Homo sapiens: one gene and its partners. The protein of the gene in region 4 purifies or fractionates together with the protein of the main gene of each other region. This does not show direct contact. Each region holds a gene or a part of one and is shown on either strand. Other genes may lie near its edges.

Region 1 (3,928 bases), on a different chromosome or scaffold from region 4:
AGACGGGGTTTCACCATGTTGGCCAGCATGGTCTCAATCTCTTGACCTTGTGATCCACCCGCCTCGGCCTCCCAAAGTGCTGGGATTACAGGTGTGAACCACCGTGCCCAGCCCATCTTTTTTGAGAGACAGAGTCTCACACTGCCACCCAGGCTGGAGTGCAGTGGCATGATCTTGGCTCACTGCAACCTCTGCCAAAACCAACTTCTACCCAGTTTCTGAGTATTATAAGTTCAGGCTGATGGCTATATATAATCCATGTTTTGAATTTTTACAATCGTCCTATTTCCCTAATGATTTTATTTTATTTTTTATTTTTATAATAAGACTGAGTCTTGCTATATTGCCCAGGCTGGTCTCAAACTCCTAGGTTCAAGCCATCTTCCTGCCTCAACATCCCAAAGCACTGGGCTTACAGGTGTGAGCCATCACATCTAGCCCCAAATGATCTGTAATTTTTTTTCTTTGTTTTTTTGAGACCGAGTCTCACTCTGTCACCCAGGCTGGAGTACAGTGGCATGATCTCGGCTCACTGCAACCTCTGCCCCCCCGGGCTCAAACGATTCTCCTGCCTCAGCTTCCTGAGTAGCTGGGATTACAGGCACCCACCACCACGCCTGGCTAATTTTTGTATTTTTAGTAGAGACAGGGGTTTCACCATGTTGGCCAGGCTAGTCTTGAACTCCTGACCTCAGGTGATCCACCCGCCTTGGCCTCCTAAAATGCTGGGATTACAGGTGTGAGCCACCACACCCGGCCAGTTTTTTGTATTTTGAATAGAGACAGGGTTTCACCATGTTGACCAGGCTGGCTTGGAACTCCTGACCTCAGGTGATCTGCCCACCTTGGCCCCTCAAAGTGCTGGGATTACAGGCATGAGCTACTGCTCAGGGCCTTAAAGATTTTTTTTTCCATTAAAATGAGCTGTGTAGCTGGGCATGGTGGTGTGTGCCTGTAGTCCCAGCACTTTGGGAGGCTGAGGCAGGAGGACTGCTTGAAGCTAGGAGTTCAAGACCAGCTTAGGCAACAAAGCGAGACTCCATCCTAAAGAAAAAAAGCTATTGGCTGGGCATGGTGGCTCGCGCCTGCAATCCTAGCACTTTAGGAGGCTGAAGCAGGAGGATCACTTGAGGCCAGGAGTTTGAGACCAGCCCAGGCAACATAGTGAGACCTTGTCTCTACAAAAAAAAAAAAAAAAAAAATTAGCCAGGTGTGATGGGGCACACCTGTAGTCCCAGCTACATGGGAGGCTGAGGTGGGAGGATTGCCTGAGCCCAAGAGTTCAAGGCTACAGTGAGCTACGATCATATCATGGTATTCCAGCATGGACAACCAAGTGAGACCCTGCCTTTGAAAAACAAAACAAAACAAAGCTGGGGCAATATCCTTTGAGGACATGAACACGGAATGGGACTGCTGCGAGTCCCAACTCTCCTGCATGACCTTACGGTACACCCAGCAAGAAAGGGCCAGCACCACAATAGTCAGGCCCAAGCTTGCAATGGCACCACCTTCCACTCAGGGCCCCCAGAACCTGAAGCTCCAGCCAAGTATTCTGTGAGTCCCTGAGGTAGCTGAATCATTTCAGGGCAATGATGACCCCTAGACCTGGAGAGCTGTGCAGGTCACCAGCCTTCAAGGTACAACTGGCTTTAAGCTGGATCTTTTGGGAAGCTTACCCCCTAGAGTCACAGTCTATCATGTTGTCAAAGTAGGTTTTCACAGACTACTTCTGCAGAGAGACTCCCAACCTCCTAGACCACGAGGCAATGCTGTTATTCTCTCCAGCCCCAGCCATCCCTCTCTATAGCGCCACCAACTGTACTTCTAAACAACCCACAGGCCTAGTGTCTCCCATTTTCAAAATCTCTTTCCAAGGCATACTGTTCCACTGAGGGGGCTGAGCCCCGAGGGAAGAAAAAAGGCCTACCAATGGCTGATTCCTACTCTCCTCAGCATCAGGCTCTGGATTCTACAGAAAAGGTTTCTAGGCCAGGCAGCAAATTTCCTAAATGCACCAGGTCTCTTAAAGGTTGGCCTGATAGCTGTAGATTGGATTCTTTCTCATAGAGAAAGATGCTTGGAACACAGGCAGGACTCAACCCACATAGAAACCACCTGCAAAAGAGGAGCTTCCACAACTCTGAGTCCTAGAAACATAATTCCTGACACAAATTCCATGATAGTAAGCTAGTAGAAATCCACTTACTTTCTTTTGGAGCAGGAATTTTGGAGTTGACGGATCTCCGTTTTTGTTTCTGAAAAACAAATCAAATTGTCACAATATATGGCTCTTATCAATTCTCAAGGGCCCATCCTGGGCCCATGTACTATGCTAAAATGCCAGACAATCAATCAGCAAAGAGTCAATAAGCAAAGTGAATTCTCTGGCGCACTGGCTGCAGCCAGATGACAGGCACCTACCTGGATTGTTACATTTTCCTGCAAGGGCAGATTGTCCTTCGGATGTAAGGGAAGAAGCTGTAAGAGTTCTGGGTTTATTGCAGCCACATCATCAAAATCAATCTGCAAGGAGCAAGTAAAAGTTTCAATGAAACAACATTGTTCAATCCAAATACATTTTTTCTTTTTTTTTTTTTTTGAGACAGAGTATCGCTCTGTCGCCCAGGCTGGAGGGCAGTGGTGCGATCTTGGTTCAATGCAACCTCTGCCTCCTGGGTCCAAGCAATTCTCCTGCCTCAGCCTCCTGAGTAGCTGGGACTACAGGCATGCGCCACCACGCCCAGCTAATTTTTGTATTTCCAGTAGAGACAGGGTTTCACCATGTTGGCCAGGATGGTCTCAAACTCCTGGCCTCAGGTGATCTCCCCACCTCGGCCTCCTAAAGTGCTGGGATTACAGGTGTGAGCCACTGTGCCTGGCCCCCCCGAGGCTGAGGCGGGAGAATTGCTGGAATCCAGGAGGCGGAGGTTGCATTGAGCTGAGATTGAGCCACTGCCCTCCAGCCTGGGCAACAGAGCAAGACTCTGTCTCAAAAAACAAAAAACAAACAAACAAACAAAAAAACAACATAGAAAAAATTAAATTTCTATAGACAGGGGTACCCCTAAATTCAAACTTTACCAACTTTAAGTTCCACTAAGTATGAATAGCTATAAAACAAATAGTTACTCCTTAATAATGGTTTACCATCTAGATGGATATGGGTTTCTGATTTCCAAGCCAATGGTAGACGTCAGTGATGAGAATGAGGTGAAGAGGAGGGCAGACAGGCAGGCAAACAGTCGGGTACTCCACAGCAGATCTAGGCCACTTGGCTCCCCTGCTGATCTGCTGGGCAGTGAGGTCCTGCTGGGCACAGCCCCCCAAGCACCTCTTGATGGCTGACACGGAGGAGGAAACAAGTTCTAACTGTCTGGTGAGAGTCAAATGGGGGCCCTTTAGGATCTTATGGGCAGGGGCAAGTTCCTGACAGCTGCTACCTAACCCTAAGACTACCTACATTTTCTTCTGGGCCCAGAAACTTCCCCAGTTACGGCTTCCTGCCCATGCCTTACCTATTTCCTGTTGATGCCTGCAATGAGGTCACAATTCTAAGTTTACATCATCAGAGTCCTGCAATTCTCCAGGAACAACTCAAACTTCACCAGGATAGCTTTACAACAGGTTCAGACATATTAAATTTGTCCCAACTTTGTATTTCAAAATGTGACAGAGCTGAAGCATGTACTCTAGGGTGAGGGCTTTACTGCCTAGAGATGAAACCTGCAGGACTGGGTGCGGTGGCTCACGCCTGTAACCCCAGCACTTTGGGAGGCCGAGGTGGGCGGATTACCTGACCTCAGGAGTTCAAGGCCAGCCTGGGCAACACGGTGAAACCCCTGTCTCTACTAAAATACAAAAAGTTGGCTGGGTGTGGCAGCGTGCACCTGTAATCCCAGCTACTCAGGAGCCTGAGGCAGGAGAA
Region 2 (3,248 bases), on a different chromosome or scaffold from region 4:
CAGCCCCTTGCCTCCCTTCACACTCTCCTTCCTCCTGTCGTCTTCTCTCGCCACCACCAACCCCACAAGCCTCTCCCTCCCAAATCCTCCAAACTCCTCCCCAGGCTGAAAGCCAGTTCTCAGCCTCCCTGCCTGGAGCTGGCAAGCCTGAGCTTCCTAGAGGGGTACCTCCTGAGAGAAAGGTAGGCGGGATTGCTGAAGGCCTTGTTGGGAAGTGTGGTTCCAGGACTGCTGGGCCCCACCCCAGCCTCAGAACTTTCTTTCTCAGAACGGACACATTTTGGCTTTGGTCCTACTAGTCCTCCCACCCCCGACTTCACCCCAAACAGCCTACAGGAACCCATTGCCATCCGGGGGACCGCCCCTATCAGAATGACATCAGCAATGGCTGGTGTAATCAAAGCCCATTTGTCAGTGTGAATTCTTAGCAGATTAACTTGTCAGATTCACAGAGAAACCGTCACTAAATGTTTATGTGTAAACGATGTTGAATTTTAAAATCATGTGGATTATGGCGGATGGGGCCTGACAAGATGACAGTCTCTGGTTTCTAACAAAGTGAAGTTACCAGTGTCAAAACAGAGGATGTTTATTGTGAAAAATGTCAAAGTATCCACAGAAACCCCTGCAGACCCCTGCCAGCAATGTCGGGCCTTGGTTAGCTGACCTAAGGCCTGGGACGCTCCTGGTTTGAGGCCCAGGGCAGGAATAGTGGGGCTGCTACAGACGCAGCCAGTCAGCTGGGAGCCCCACACAGCCCTGCATACCACCACCCCAGCCACACTTATCTGCAGAGGGGCCTGGCCCAGGCAGCTGAGTAGTCTCTGAGTATCCCCTCACCCGAGGCCACCTTCCTTTCCCCTCTGCCCACAGCCCCTTGCCTCCCTTCACACTCTCCTTCCTCCTGTCCTCTTCTCTCGCCACCACCAACCCCACAAACCTCTCCCTCCCGAATCCTCCAAACTCCTCCCCAGGCTGAAAGCCAGTTCTCAGCCTCCCTGCCTGGAGCTGGCAAGCCTGAGACTGCTCAGGTCCGACATGGATATTTGCAGCCCCCCACCCCCGCCAGCCCACGCAGTCAGTGAGCACAGCAGGACACTTCCTGTGCCTTGCTGTCTGCCGGACCTGGACCTCTGTCAGGAAATGCCCAGCCTGGGACTGACGAGTAGACCTGCCACCCAAGCAGGCCTGTCAGGGTAGGGATGTCACTTGTGTGAGTGCTTGTCCCTGGCTTAAATTCTCTCCAATGTGTTAAAGATTAGGGAGTTAGGGAAAGAGAGGTAGTGGAGAGACTGTGCTTAAAAAAAAAAAAAGTCATCTAAAAAGAATGAAAGATATCTGTGCCACTATAGCAAGACCTTTTAAGTATATACTCTGAAAGTGTGGCTAATATGATCATGATGCTGTAGGAAAAAAAGGTTATATGTCCAAGTGTATGTACTTGTAAATGTGCCTAAAGAAACCTGGAAGGATACACAGGTCTTCCCTGGGGTACAAGACGGAGAACTGGGATCATCATCTTAACTCTACTCTTCCTTTTTACTCTTCTGTCCTCTTAGAGACTTTCGCCTGTATACATGGATTACTGTTACTTAGCAGGGGCGACCGGTTGGCCAAAGCCTTGGTGTGCCCTTGGCACAATTCTGCCAAGACCCTTACCCTCTCCTCTCCTCAGGGCTCCCTTAACCCCTCTCCCCACATCTGGAAAACCCTGGATACATTTTCTGTTCCATCTTTAGTTTTCTGCCTCTGGATGCGTAAAGCTTCAACCTGCTGGCTTTTAGAGGGAGAGGACTTGTTAAAAAAAAAAAAGTGGGGTGTGGGGAGAGCGGTGTTGTGATCTGGGGGCCAGCCATGTGGTAAAAAGGAGTAGAGGTCAAGGGGCTGCTTCTATTCCCTCAGTTTAGGGTCCTGGGAGGCTGACGGGTTTGGGCAGCTTTTGGGAACTAGGCAGAAGAGAGTCCTGTATGGGAGGCCGGAGTCAAGGCAGAAGCCCAGTGCAGCCCTCTCTAGGCCAGCAGGGGAGGGTCCCCGGGGCTGAGAGCCCGGACGGAGGAAAGGACTGGTAGAAGAGCCAAGACACGGCTAGCGTGGCACCCCCTCCCCAGGACCACATTCTCCAGGGTGAGAAGAGCAGCCAGCCCTCTGCCTCCTGTCCTCAGTGACAGCCTTCTGCTCTCTCATGCCCACAGAGGAGCCAATCCGGCTACTGCGGGAGGTGGTGCTGTTGACGGATGACCGGAACCTGCGTGTGAAGGCGCTCACAAGGAATGTTCCTGTACGGGACATCCCAGCCTTCCTCACGTGGGCCCAGGTGGGCTGAGGGAGCCACACTGGGGCCCCCCCCCCGTGGAACCGTTCCTGAAAGGCCACCAGGCGCCCAGTGTAGCACGGAAGATGCCCACGTGCCTGAGCCACCAATCCACCCAGACAATAAACCATCCTCTTCCAACCCACGCCACGGCCATGCTGTGGGGGACCTGCTCCTCACAGAGCCCCTCCCAAGGATCGGGCGGAAGCTGCTGGGACCCTCCTGGGCTGCCAGGATTTAGCAGGGAGGTGGCTGGCTACAGCAACAGCAGCTGGGCAAGCCAGATAGGCCGCCCATGCTCTCAGCCTTTCTCCCTCCCCCGTCTCATTCCAAGGCTGAGGGAGGGCCTTCTCGCCTGGGGACGCAGCCACTTTCTCCAGTGGAGACAGGGCAGGGGTTCTGAGTTTCCGTCAGATGCAGTGAAATCACAGTTCCCTTTCATCTTCAGAACCTCTGTCGTGAATGTGTTCAAGAGGCTTTGGTTAAGTCAGGAAGAAGTGCCCAGGGTGTGTGTCCCCAGTCTCCCTGAGGCCTGGACTCGCCCATGAACCCAAGTCGGCTTCTAGACAGCATGTCCCTAACAGCAGCCCTGGGCCCCCACCTCTTCTACCATCCACCCCAGACTTACCACACACCCTTCCTGCTGCTCCTCTTCCTGCCCTTATCAACCTGGGTCCCTCACACTTCGCCAGTTGCGTCCCCGTGGACAGTCATGAGTCTAGAGGAAAGGGGCATCTGGTCTCAGGCCCGTGCTCTCGGGTGGCCTCCACCTGCTCCCTCTCTCCTCACTGGCCTTTCTTTCCGTCTAGCTTCCTCTTCAGGAAATGTCCTGACTCCCCTCAGCTCCCCCTTCACCCCTCCTTGCCCGCCTACCCTCCCTCCAGAATAGCCCCTCACCCTTCTTCCCCTTCTAGTTGATCCTTTTCACCTCCCTGAT
Region 3 (3,928 bases), on a different chromosome or scaffold from region 4:
AGACATGAACTCTGGAGCAAAGGAAAGAAGAAAGATAAAAGGCAAATCTAAGAGACTTAAGGTAGAAATCATGTAATATAATGTATGAATGTTTATGAAGTTATCAAGGAAATTTGAACACTACGATATTTAGTAAAAAAATTAACAGTAATTTATTAATATTAGGTGTGATAATAGCACGGTAGTTACATTTTCAAAAAGACACCTTATCTTTTAGAGATCCCTATGGAAATTTATGAATAAACTTATGTCTAGAATCTGTTTCAAAATAATCCAGGTGTAGGTCAAGTCGCTGGAGGCATGGATATAACACTGTCCATCAGCTGACACTGAAGCGAAATGGTAGGAGTTCATTTTACCATTTTTTCTGCTCTTATACATGTTTGACATTTTCCATAGTAAAAAAAAAAAAATTTTTTTTTTTTTTTTTTTTTTGAGAGAGTCTTCCTCTATTGCCCAGGCTGGAGTGCAGTGGTGTGATCTCAATTCGCTACAAACACTGCCTCCTGGGTTCAAGCAATTCTCATGACTCAGCCTCCTGAGTAGCTGGGACTACAGACACGCATTACTAGACCCGGCTACTTTTTGCATTTTGTGTAGAGACAGGGTTTCACCATGTTCCCAGGCTGGTCTTGAACTCTTGACTTCAAATGATCCACCCACCTCAGCCTCCCAAAGGCCTGGGATTACAGGCGTGAGCCACTGCATCCAGCCCAAAAATCAATTTTTAAAAAATATTATCTAGCCGGGCACGGTGGCTCACGCCTGTAATCCCAGCACTTTGGGAGGCTGAAGTGGGCAGATCACGAGGTCAGGAGTTCGAGACCAGCCTGGCCAATATGGTGAAACCCCATCTCTACTACAAATACAAAAATTAGCTGGGCGTGGTGGCGCGTGCCTGTAGTCCCAGCTACTCAGGAGGCTGAGGCAGGAGAATCGCTTGAACCCGGGAGGCGAAGGTTGCAGTGAGCCAGGATCGTGTCACTGTACTCTAGCCGGGGCAACAGAGTGAGACGCTGTCTCAAAAAAAAAAAAAAAAAAAAAAAATCTAATTTGGGCATATCTCAGAAGTTCATAAACACAGAAACATTAATATAGTAAAATTTAGTTTATTGCCATGTATTTATTTTAAAAAGCTTTCTTAGTATTTATGTCCATAAAAGCAAACAAAAGCACAAAATTCACAATGTCTAATTTTAGCAATTTACTCAAGAAGTGAAAAAAGCACCATCTATCTCATTTAAAGACATATTTCCAATATAATTTAAATACATTAAAATTGTTTTGATCAATTAGGTACTAAAAACAACTTTAATGATAAGTCAATTGAGAAGAATTTGTCATAGAATTCTTTTAAATATTTTAAAGTTTCTTTTATGCATGCATTTTTGTTACAAACAGGGTAATAAAAAGTTCTTAACTATACCATATACTATTAAGATACACTTCTGAGGGGAAAATAAAAACAGTAAAACAAGTTCAAAGAAAAAAGAATAATGGAAAATTTCCAAATGCTGAACTGGTATTTTTTTACAGGATAGTAGGTATCACATTGCTATGCTATTTAGATTCCATTGATACATTTAAAAATAACACAATTTTGTATTGAAAAAAATTTCTTAATGTCGCTTGCAGACATCCAGAGGGGTATATTATTTTCAAAATTCTTATAGCATTTTCAAAAGTTTAAAAACTCTTTCCTAAGGGATATCTTCTTAATCTTCTTTAACCTTTACGTGTACATCTTTTCTATGTTGTACTGTATTTTGTTTAAAGAGAATATTAGGCCGGGCATAATGGCTCATGCCTGTAATTCCAGTATTTGGGGAGGCTAAGGTGGGAGGATCATTTGAGCCCAGCAGTTTGAGACCAGCCTGGGCAACATGGTGAAACCTCATCTCTACAAAAAAATTGACAAATTAGCCAGGCATGATGGTGTACACCTGTTGTCCCAGCTACTTGGGAGAAGGCTGAGGTGGGAAGATCACCTGAGCCTGGGGAGGTAGAGGCTGCAGTAAGCTGTGATCACACCATTGCACTCCAGCCTGGTTGACAGAGGGAGACCCTGTCTCAAAACAAAAACAAAAAAAGAGAAAATTAAAAACTTCTTGGCTGGGCACAGTGGCTCATGCCTGTAATCTCACAACTTTGGGAGGCCGAGGTGGATGGATCACCTGAGGTCAGGAGTTCAAGACCAGCCTGACCAACATGGTGAAACCCCGCCTCTACGAAAATTACAAAAATTAGCCAGGTGGTGTGGCACGCACCTATAATCCTAGCTACTCAGGAGGCTGAGGCAGGAGAATCACTTGAATCCAGGAGACAGAGGTTGCAATGAGCCGAGATTGTGCCATTGCACTCCAGCCTGGGTGACAGAGTGAGATTCTGGCTCAAAAAAAATAAAATTAAAAAAATCTTAATTTCAAATAGAAATTTCACATACTAAGTACCAAAGAGGTTCCGAATAAATCTGCACACTCACATTAGTGTAATTCTTATCTTGGCATACGCTTCTTCCTGGTTAGGGCTAGATCCTTCCAAAAGACAATACATTCAGAGTTTTTGTAATTCTCAACAATAAGTACTGGGATGGATAATTCAGTTTTAGGCTTTATTCAAAAGTTACTTGTGACTAAAACTGTAAGTATAAAAATAATTTTTTAAAGGAAGGGATAAATGTACAAACTCTTAGCAAGTAGAGAAATAAGAGTTATGGACATCTTCTAGTGAGTTGCCTTAACTCATAAGTACTGGTACTCTTAACCCTAGTTAGTTACAGTGTAGCCAAGCTTTTAAAAAAGAAAAGGAGAAAAAGAAAAAAACAGCTATTTTCACAAGCTTCTTACCAGCTATGATTGTTGTTGCTTGTCGCCTCACATTATTTTTATCCATGTATTCACCATAGTCTATTTTCCCTTCCAAATAAATTCGAGACCTGATATAAATAAAATGTACAGTTTTTAGTTGAGATCTTAATATGCTTTATAAGAGTCAGGTCAGGGTGGTACTGAGTATATGACAAGGATGAAATATATAATCATATATAAGCTAATTTTTGCTACCACTTCTCAAGGTTCAGGATTAGGAGTACTGAAACAGAGTGTCCAAACAGACTTGGTAACATCTAGGTAAAACAGACAATGTTTTCATCTGTCAGCTATTTCTCTTACGGAAGTTAAAAAATAAAACAAAACAGTTCAAAGGGAAATTTAGTGGCAACATTTAAATCTCTAGGAATAATTTCCAATGTATCATTTTCCTTGACCTTTGATTTTGGAGTCCCTAACAGACTTGATTTTCACTTATTTATCAATTATTTTCTATGACCTTAGAAACTTAGATGATTAAAATTCAAAATATGGATTTGTAGTTAGTTTAGTATAATATTACCCTGAGTTAATTACTAAGACTATTTCTACACTGTATCAGCTTAGTATACCACTTAGAGGTAATTACTAAGACTATTTCTACACTATCTAGAGGCTAAACTAGATAACAAACCTAATCGTGATTTTCAAGAGTGGAAAGATGACAATAGTACCAGTTTTGAGAGTCTACCACCACCAAAAAAGTACAACACAGAAAGATTAGTGAAACATCAGGTGCTCCCCACCCCACACACACACCCATCAATCAGTAAGTGGGAGTGCAGACACTTCCCTTGAAATACCTTATATGTGTTTGTGTGTGTATGTGCACATATTCATAAACATACATAAAGGGCAATGAAGATACATAGGAAGAAAAGCTATACAGTTATTGAAAAGAAAAATTTTAGTGATTGCTAAATTATTTTTCATAAAATATGTTTTCTTTCTACAAAACAAGTACATTTCTAAACATATTAACTATCAATACAACTGCTGTTACACACACCGTTTTGTCCTTCTATGAGTTTGGAAAACATACTTTTTATACATACTCAATC
Region 4 (3,928 bases):
CTGGTGGCTCATGTCTGTAATCCCAGCCACTTTGGGAGGCCAAGGTGGGAGGATTGTTTGAGCCCAGGAGTTCAAGACCAGCCTGGGCAACACAGTGAAACTCATTTCTACAAAAAAAATTTTAAAATTAGCCAGGCGTGGTAGCATGTGCCTGTAGTCTCAGCTACACAAGAGAGACTGCGGTGAGAAGATCGCTTCAGCCCGGAGGCAGAGGTTACAGTGAGCAGAGATTGCGCCACTGCACTCTGGCCTGGGCGATAGAGCAAGACCCTTCCTGACTCAAAAAAAAAAAAAAAAAGAAAAAAAGAAATACCTCTGCCCTGGTTTTACTCGTTTATCTACACAACATTAGAGAAGAAGCTACTGAAAACACAACGGAGCTCTTCCAACTTTCTCAGTGCTCTTTCCTACCACCCTCCATTCAGATCAAATGCAAAAGCAGAAGGAACAGCCATGTTAACCCTTCATTTCTTCTAAGATCCAAATGAGGGCTTCATATGATCACTGTCTTTAGATACGCTGGGATTCATACGTCCATCACCCAAAGGACAAGTCTAACTCAGTGTTCTATTCCTTTTTTGGTTCTTTTCTTTGCAAGGGAAGTGAAAAGTAGGCAAATGTTAGTGAGTGTCCTGTAGAAATAACTCAACTGAGATTTAACCCCATTGCGCACTCCAAAATGGCTAAGGTGCTTAAAAATGGCTTTCAGCGTGAAAATTCTATTCCTGCATCCTTGTTTTCACCATTAAAGACAAAACACTGCTGGCCAGGCGCGGTGGCTCACGCCTGTAATCCCAGCACTTTGGGAGGCCGAGGCGGGTGGATCACAAGGTCAAGAGATCGAGACCATCCTGGCCAACATGTTAAAACCCCGTCTCTACTAAAAACACAAAAAATTAGCTGGGCATGGTGGCACACGCCTGCAGTCCTAGCTACTCGGGAGGCTGAGGCAGGAGAATTGCTTGAACCCAGGAGGCAGAGGCTGCAGTAAGTTGAGACTGCGCCACTGCACTCCAGCCTGGGCGACAGAGCGAGACTCTGTATCAAAAAAAAAAAAAATACTGCTTCATGTATTAACAATATGCTTTTCAAGCTTTATCAAAATTATTATGTAATAATGACTGATGCTTATACAGCCAAAGACCTGAAACAAATAATTCAGTTTATTTGAAAAAGAAAATAGGCCAGGCACAGTGGCTCACGTCCGTAATCCTAATACTTTGGGAGGCTAAGGCAGGAAGATTACCTGAGGCCAGGAATTTGAGACCAGCCTGGGCAACATAGTGAGACTCCTCTCTACAAAAAATTTTAAAATTAGCCAGGCATGACCTATAATCCTAGTTACTCAGGAAGCTGAGGCAGGAGAATCAGTCAACCCCAGGAGGTTGAGGTTGCAGTGAGCTATGACTGCACCACCACACTTCAGCGTGGGCAAGAGCGAGACTCTGCTTCTATTAAAAAAAAAAAAAAGAAGAAGAAGAAGAAGAAAATAAATTTACACCTATCACAAGAAGTCTGACAAGTAAGTACCACTAAAATTGTCACCCTTCATGGACAGACATGAGGATTTACATGCTTCTGAGACGCAGGAGTAGTACACCTAGTGTTATCACACGGGCCTTTCTGGCACAAAACTTGTACCAACGAGTTTCTCCCATTCTCAAAAGTTTCAGTTAAAAATATGTAACTTCATAATTAATGTTTTAGGAACTTAATTTATAGTAAGTCAATAAAACAAGCTATAAGAACAGATATATAATAATTTCCACTTCAAAGGAACTCTTCATGGCTATGTTTCCCTGGTAAGAGTTTCTTCTAGCATCATTAGTTATTACACAAGTTTCTGCTCATATTCAAAGAAAAAAGAGCTTACCTCAATCCCTCAGCCCCAACTTAGTTAGACGCATGGCCTCATACTAGGAAATAATCACCCCATTTTTTTTTTTTGAGATAGGGTCTGTCTCTGTCACCCAGGCTGGAGTGTAGTGATATGGCATGATCTCAGCTCACTGCAGCCTCCAACTCCCAGGCTTAAGTGATCCTCCCACCTCAGCCTCCTAAGTAGCTGAGACTATAGGCATGTGTACTAACCGGCTAATTTCTGTATTTTTTTATTTATTTATTTTTGGTAGAGACAGGGCCTCATCATGTTGCTCAGGCTAATCACCCTAATTTTAATAATAAAACTATCTCCTAGGCTTCTTTCACCTCTGTATTTCTTGTATTAAGGAAAGAATACAGTGCCAGAATGTAGCCAATGGCTAGCAACTGGCGATTCTGGGTAAAGGTATTCAGGAATTAATTATCCTCTTATTTTAAGTTTTATGCAGGTTTGAAAGTTTTTAAAACAAAAAGATAGCAAAAATAAACTGTAAAAAATATACACTACATTCATGAGAAGACACTGTCATTAAGAAGCTTCTGGTAATCCCAAACAGATCCTGTTTTTATACAGGTACTGATGACAACACAATGATTACACAGGTTAGTCACACAGAGTGACAATGAGACAAAGGCCCTGTGGCAAAGCTGTGCTTCAACTCAGTCTGCTGTTTTAAGTAGCACCCTAAAGACGTAGCCACCCCCAAATGTGTGTTTCTGGTCAGAAGGAAGAATGGAGAGGTGAATCCAGAAGGAGAGCGGTATGCACGCTGCATTAGAAAGACAGTGGCCTCGGCCATGGACCAGACTAGGGCCCCAGATGCACACATCCTAGCTGTGACCTCTGAGTGAGAAGTCGCACGCAGGCTGGTAACATGTCTAGCATAATAGTGGCAGCTAGTGTTATCAGGACAATGATGATGAGACAAATCAGTAGTGTCACTTCCAGATAATGAAAATCATGTAAAATTCCATGCAGAGTATAGATTATATTTAATTAAGAGTACTCCAAATCTCTAGAAACAGGCAACAAAACATATCCTGATCTTGGAACTGGACAGTCCTAGACTACAGAATATGATTTCAAAGGCTCTGTAGTATCATTTAGGGAAAGGAAATCATCCTGACTACCCAGGAACAAAGGTGAAAAGGTAAATGACCCCTGCCCACTTTCCATGGCACTAAGAACCACCTTCAGTGAGATGCTCAAACCCAAGAAGGCACATCTAGCATCTTCTTTTACGGTAGCTTCACCTTCTGGATAGAGCCACAGCAGCTGACCGCTTTGCATGTTTTAAAAACAACCCTTTGATTCTACAATCACAGATTTTTAGCTTCGAATCACAGTAAGTCAAAGTACTCATTAAACTATTTATAGTCACTACAGAAGCAACTTGCATGGCATTCTACCAGCAAATGTCTGTTTCTATGCTGCTGAATCAAGTGCATTGGAGACTGCTGTTAAGGGTTTTAAAGGCAGGCAAACCCACCTTGTAGTAGTCATAGAGCAGGCCCAGCGCAGCGGCGCTGTCTTCATCTCCATTGATGCTCATCATCGCTTTGGTCGCTGCAGTGAGAGGGTTTTCCAGGAAGGATTTCCAGGCCTCATCCTCACTAGTGTAGGACCGCCGCTGTGGATAAAGTGCTTCATTCTGAAGAACCAACACTGGCCGTTTGCTTCAGAGAAATTAAAAAAAAAACAAAAACACACACTTTTCTACTGCAAGGTATCATAAGCTACCAATTCCTTGACATTCCTATAAAATAGCCTATTGTTTCATCAATGACCCTAGGAAGTCAAATTAAGACAAGACCAGAAGACAAACCACGTAAGTGCAGACCAATGGGTCCCACAGTAAGACATAAAGTATCTAGGCAGCCAGAGAACTGGCAGTTCACCTACACGTGGAACCCAGGGTATACTATTTGGCAAAAAAGCGAAACAAAACCATCCCCGAGAAAATGCCAGGCTATTCAAATACTTTCCATAAACAAACACAAGGACACAGTAAAGAAAAGAGAATACTTGTTCTCTTCCAACACACAA

Evidence for each region.
Region 1: the proteins of GRHL1 (region 4) and KIF2C purify together in Homo sapiens (co-immunoprecipitation; one large-scale study listed by IntAct). This does not show direct contact.
Region 2: the proteins of GRHL1 (region 4) and HIC1 purify together in Homo sapiens (co-immunoprecipitation; one large-scale study listed by IntAct). This does not show direct contact.
Region 3: the proteins of GRHL1 (region 4) and SSBP1 purify together in Homo sapiens (co-immunoprecipitation; one large-scale study listed by IntAct). This does not show direct contact.

What each region holds. Positions count from the first base shown.
Region 1 is NC_000001.11:44,745,982-44,749,909, reverse strand, and holds part of KIF2C (kinesin-like protein KIF2C), read right to left. Parts: intron 3,517-3,928; exon of another isoform or gene 3,154-3,516; coding exon of another isoform or gene 3,151-3,153; intron 2,527-3,150; coding exon 2,425-2,526; intron 2,259-2,424; coding exon 2,210-2,258; intron 1-2,209. UniProt on the Homo sapiens protein: In complex with KIF18B, constitutes the major microtubule plus-end depolymerizing activity in mitotic cells. Regulates the turnover of microtubules at the kinetochore and functions in chromosome segregation during mitosis.
Region 2 is NC_000017.11:2,060,567-2,063,814, reverse strand, and holds the end of HIC1 (hypermethylated in cancer 1 protein), read right to left. Parts: 3' UTR 2,324-3,248; coding exon of another isoform or gene 2,193-2,323; 3' UTR 574-2,192; downstream 1-573. Other genes in the region: SMG6 (telomerase-binding protein EST1A), read left to right, coding at 2,193-2,323. UniProt on the Homo sapiens protein: Transcriptional repressor. Recognizes and binds to the consensus sequence '5-[CG]NG[CG]GGGCA[CA]CC-3'. May act as a tumor suppressor. Involved in development of head, face, limbs and ventral body wall.
Region 3 is NC_000007.14:141,744,503-141,748,430, reverse strand, and holds part of SSBP1 (single-stranded DNA-binding protein, mitochondrial precursor), read right to left. Parts: intron 2,936-3,928; coding exon 2,847-2,935; coding exon of another isoform or gene 2,770-2,846; exon of another isoform or gene 1,094-2,769; intron 1-1,093.
Region 4 is NC_000002.12:9,954,545-9,958,472, reverse strand, and holds part of GRHL1 (grainyhead-like protein 1 homolog), read right to left. Parts: intron 3,559-3,928; coding exon 3,372-3,558; intron 1-3,371. UniProt on the Homo sapiens protein: Transcription factor involved in epithelial development. Binds directly to the consensus DNA sequence 5'-AACCGGTT-3'.